Regions from separate parts of the Homo sapiens genome. Here region 2 is linked to region 1. The links come from fine-mapping of genetic effects on gene expression. Tissue or cell type: lymphoblastoid cells. Region 1 holds a variant in brackets; the other region holds the start of a gene. All regions are shown on one strand. Distances are from middle to middle.

Region 1 (2,768 bases):
GAATTAATGCCTTTTTAAATTCAACGTGCACAGGCTGAGCTTTGACTGCTAGTTCAGGTTCCCTGTCTTCCCAAACAGTGCTACTCCCTCTGTTGTAGACTTCCAGCAGGAATGGTTCTTGAGTTCTTTTCTCTGGCTGAATCACCAGTGCCTGTAGGCATAGGACATGTTTGGGTGATACCTGGATTCTTAGATGTTGTTTCTCAGGAGCAAAAGTGACGTGGGCATTTAATTTACATAACAAATCTTGGCCCAACAATGGAATAGGGCAATGTGGCATATACAGAAAGCTATACCTCAATCTTATATCCCTCAATTTACATTCTTAGGGCTTAAGAAAGAGTCTCTGTTGTAACTTCCCAGTGACTCCAGCCTTGGCTGGAAACATTGCGACAGTATCAACCAATAAGCCAGTCATTTTGTTCCCCACTGTCGCTTGTACCCAGGGCTCCTGTAGGGAAATTATTGTTGCTCTGTTAAATCAGGCGGAGTCCCTGTGCCCAATCAGTCTTCATCAGAGTCACAATCCTGCTCCACCATCTCCTTCTTTGGCGTATATTTCCCTTTTCCTCTCCCTTGTCTTTTTTATTACCATCTTTTCTCTGTAGGTTTGGGGGGCATACTTCTCATGTCCAGATTTCCCCACTGTAGGCACACTGGTCCTTGTCTAGGGATTCCTTTCTATTTCACCCCTCATTCTTCCACCTTTTTGAATAGTCTCCACAAAAATGGTTGCCTGTCTAGCTTTTCTTGTTTCTCTAGCATTGAAGTCTTTGTAAGCAATATCTGTAAACTGGGAAGGGTTCATTCCAACAGTCCCTTCCTGCTTTTCTAATTTTCTGTTAATGTCAGAAGCACTTTGGCTGATGAAAGTTATATTTATGACCCAAACATGTTCCAGAGCCTCTGGATCAATATCTGAATATTTTCTGTAAGCCTGATACACTTGTTCCAACCAAGCGGCTGGGTTTTCATTGGCCTCCTACCAGAGGTCATGGATGTTTTTTATTGAGGCTTTGCTGCTTAGGTACTCCCTTTCTTAGGAGTAATCCTACAGTCAAGATATAACCTCATTATTAAGGTTTCACTTGAGTTTCACTAAGGAAATTGCCTCTGGGGTGTTGGAGGACCCAGCAGGGTCTTGCTGGTATAGCCTTCTGGCTCCATCATTAGTCTTGTCTAAAAATAACCCCCTTTCATCATAAAATTTAATAATGCTTGTACACCTGCTATTGTGGAATGATGAGTAGAAAAAATACTGGTGAATATTTCAGTCATCTCCTATGGATCATCCCTATAGGATGGACTTGAATATTTTTCAATTTACTTAGTCAAAGATAGAAAATGGTGAATAACCAAAATAGCCCAGGAGTATGGCCCTGTGCGTTTAATCCTCCAGCGGGGAATTTGCATAACAGAAATTGTTCTGCCACATGAGGGTGTACGCTCTGGTCAAATTTAGTTGCCTTGTCAGGTCTTAAAAGGGGAGCCTATTTCTTGGCTACCTTTAAAATGAGGAGGGGCCACCACACCCTGTAAGTCTGTATTATCTGGATAATCCTCTGGTGGAGGGGGCAGAGATGGG[G/A]CAACTCAGGGTACTGTGCTGGTACTGCAGCTGGGGCCTCCATGGGAACTTGCACAGGCACCAGAGCAGGCTGCAATGGGACAGGCACCTGCAAAGCCTCAGCATCATTTGCCTGTGGAGGGTTTATAGTTGATAAGATTATCCTATCTCCTTCTCTTCCTCCTCAGGTAATGGAGAGTGAGGAGATTTTACCTGATATGGTCCTGTTTGCACCGTCAGCCAGCAACCTTTCTGGGAAGCATGCTTATTATGTACCAACATAGAAGCTTGAATATAAGGTATGCAGTCCCAATTTCCTGATCTCAGATTGAAATGTTCAAGCTGTAAATTCAAAGAACCATGTAATGGCCACCTATCTTCCTCATGTATCACGTACATTGGCCACACCTTATTGCAGTAGATTATCTTTTTTGTCGTAGGGTTATCACTGTAGGCTTACCAGTCAGCCAATATGAACCACAGCGGGCTCTGAGAGGGGATTGATGAAAAAAACTTCCCATGGTGGACACAAACAAAACACAACCAAAACAAATGAAGCACTTTTCCAACCCAGGCTTTCACAAAGGAAGAGACTGGTATGGAGTCACTATGAGTCATTTCTTCTACCAGTGGTACCACAAATGGTCCAAAGGCCCAAATGGTAAAGAAAGTGGACTACTACTTTGCACCCCAGTAGACTTACCTGGTTGTACAGCTCATCAGCTCATCCAAAAAGCTAGTTTCCCAGCACTTTGGGAGGCCAAGGCGGGCGGATCACGAGGTCAGGAGATGGAGACCATCCTGGCTAACAAGGTGAAACCCCATCTCTACTAAAAATACAAAAATTAGCCGGGCATGGTGGCGGGCGCCTGTAGTCCCAGCTACTCCTAGGATGCTGAGGCAGGAGAATGGGATGAACCCAGGAGGCAGAGCTTGCAGTGAGCCGAGATTGCGCCACTGCACACCAGCCTGGGCGACAGAGCGAGACTCCATCTCAAAAAAAATAAAAATAAAAAAAATAAAGCTAGTTTCCTCTCACCAACTAAAAGCAAAGGTAGGCAGTCAGTACTGAATGGGGGAAAGGAGGAAGTTTCCCTGAAGTAGAAAGAGTTTTGGCAGCCTCTCTTTGGCAGACTTTGGGGCTGTCTCTGCAGTTCCCTTCTGCCATGAGTAGCCAGTGCCACGGAGCATTTGCCGCTAACCT
Region 2 (2,634 bases), 150 kb after region 1:
TATATATATATATATTTTTTTTTTTTTTTTGAGATAGTCTTGCTGTGTCACCCAGGCTGGAGTACAGTGGCACAATTACAGCTCACTGCAGCCTTGATCTCTTGGGCTCAAGCAATCCTCTCACCTCAGCCTCCCGAGTAGCTAGGACCACAGGCACGTGCCCCACACTTGGCTATTTTTTTGTATTGTTTGTAGAGATGAGGTTTTGCCACATTGCCCAGGCTGGCCTTAAACTCCTGGACTCAAGCAAATCACCTTAGCCTACCAAAGTGTTGGGATTACAGGCATGAGCCACTGCAACTGGCCTACACGTTGTATTCTGAAAGGAATATTATGGATGAAAATGCACTGGGACTTAATCATAGTATTGATATTTTGTAGAGGAATTTGGAATAACGTAGGTTGTTATTACAGCAAGTTTGCAATGTGTCTTAAATATTCCTTAGTTCATACATGTAAAATATTTTTCCTTCCTTCCTTCCATCCTTCCTTCCTTCCTCCTTCTCTTTTTCTTTCTTTCCTTTCCTTTCTCTCTCTTTCTTTTTCTTTCTCTCCTTTCTTTCTTTCTTCTTTTCTTTCTCTTTCTTTCCTTTCTTTCTTTCTTTCTTCCTTTCTTTCTTTCTTTCTTTCTTTCTTTCTTTCTTTCTTTCTTTCTTTCTTTTCTTTCTTTCTTTCTTTCTTCCTTCTTTCCATCCCTGTAGAGCAGGGGTAACCAATAGGCAGTGTGCCCAGGGTAGCCTAAAGTGTTCAGAGTCTTTTAACCAAGGCTCAGTAAGACAAGTGATGTTTGCTTTTCATGCTAACTTGATTGAAAAAAATAAATGTATGAGGTTTAAATTTTTTTTCCCAAAGTTGTGATTATCTACAGGCAAGCCATGCAACACCCGTTAAACATTAATATAAAACTACTGCTCATCTTTAAAGCAATGATTTAAAGCCATAAATGTAACAGGAAGATCTAATTCTGGAAGACATACAAATGCCGAAAGGAAAATTAAAGCCACTTACCCCGAGGAAGAGATGAAGGTGAAGAACTTTCTGGGCCTGAGTCTGTGGGTAAGTTTAACTCAGCATATATTGCTTGTTGGTCCATGGCAGACAGAGGAAGGTGGCATTAAACTTGTGTGTAAGAACAAACTCTCAATTCTGTGAGGCAAAATCAGCAAAAGGAAGCTTTCTGCCTGCAGTACTTTGTTGTCTCTCTTTTGTCCCCACCCACATACACTTTTTGTTGGTGGTTATCTCCATAAATTACTGAGACAATCCACTGACTGCATGTTCATTATACCTAGCTATGTAATATCTACTTTCCTTAATTAACTGGCCTGTTGTTTGAGAAAATTCTGGGAGGCTCATTTGTTCTTGTTTTTCTAACCATCCCTTTTGTGTTCCTCTCTCAGGGCCAGGACCAGAGTGAAGCAAATGAGGCATAGCCTGGGGTTCCAATTTAAGGGGCCCCCAACAAAACTCACTAATTAACAGAAATAATATTTAGCACAATTTTGTAAAAGTAAAAATTAATGCAAAAAAGTCCATAATGCTATTCAAAGGCTCTAAAATCTTCCTGAAATATCTGTGCTCCAAAGAAAGTTGTGAAATGTGAAAAATGGAAACATAAATGTGAGAAAGCCCCCTGAATAACACAACAGAAAAAGCAATGTGCTAAAGATCAGTAGCCTACTGTTAGCTTAGCTCTAAAGGCACTCTTGGATATGATAGCATTTTCACATAAGTAAAAGTATTTGGAAACTGCCAGAATTGTAGGAAGTGGAGTATATGGAATTTTTTATCTCTTTGAAAGACTTTCTTTTTTTTTCAAGGTGATTATAGTATGTGTCTACTTTTTTTTTTTTACCTTTTTTTATTATTATTATACTTTAAGTTCACAATGTACAGGTTTGTTACATATGTATACATGTGCCATGTTGGTGTGCTGCACCCGTTAACTTGTCATTTACATTAGGTATATCTCCTAATGCTATCCCTCCCCCCTCCCCCCACCCCACGACAGGCCCCGGTGTGTGGTGTTCCCCTCCCTGTGTCCAAATATTCTCATTGTTCAATTCCAACCTATGAGTGAGAACATGCGGTGTTTGGTTTTCTGTCCTTGCAATAGTTTGCTCAGAATGATGGTTTCCAGCTTCATCCATGTCCCTACAAAGGACATGAACTCATCCTTTTTTATGGCTGCATACTATTCCATGGTGCATATGTGCCATATATTCTTAATCCAGTCTATCATTGATAGACATTTGGGATGGTTCACGAGTCTTTGCTATTGTGAATAGTGCCACAATAAACATATGTGTGCATGTGTCTTTATAGCAGCGTGATTTATAATCCTTTGGGTATATACCCAGTAATGAGATGGCTGGGTCAAATTCTAGTTCTAGTCCCTCGAGGAATCGCCACACTGTCTTCCACAATGGTTGAACTAGTTTAGAGTCCCACCAACAGTGTAAAAGTGTTCCTATTTCTCCACATCCTCTCCAGCACCTGTTTTTTCCTGACTTTTTAATGACTGTCATTCTAACTGGTGTGAGATGGTATCTCATTGTGGTTTAGATTTGCATTTCTCTGATGGCCAGTGATGATGAGCATTTTTTCATGTGTCTGTTGCCTGCATAAATGTTT

Which allele goes with the higher level. Alleles are on the strand shown, and positions count from the first base shown. SD is a standard deviation of normalised expression in the study named.
With allele G in place of A in region 1, the expression in lymphoblastoid cells of the gene that starts at base 1,170 in region 2 is higher (moderate effect, 0.68 SD a copy in TwinsUK).

The links. PIP is the estimated chance that this variant, and not a neighbour inherited with it, causes the effect.
Region 2: it holds the start of KLRB1, and the variant in region 1 is fine-mapped to the expression of KLRB1 in lymphoblastoid cells (TwinsUK, PIP 0.91).

What each region holds. Positions count from the first base shown.
Region 1 is chr12:9,459,572-9,462,339 of GRCh38, forward strand. It overlaps the pseudogene OVOS1P. Among named protein-coding and RNA genes, the nearest start is that of LINC02367, 93 kb to the left of the region's middle. The variant G/A (reference allele first, on the strand shown) is at 1,586.
Region 2 is chr12:9,606,747-9,609,380 of GRCh38, forward strand. It overlaps KLRB1 (killer cell lectin like receptor B1), which reads right to left and starts at 1,170. Exons shown (of 6, transcript NM_002258.3): 1 at 1,009-1,170. The coding sequence starts at 1,093.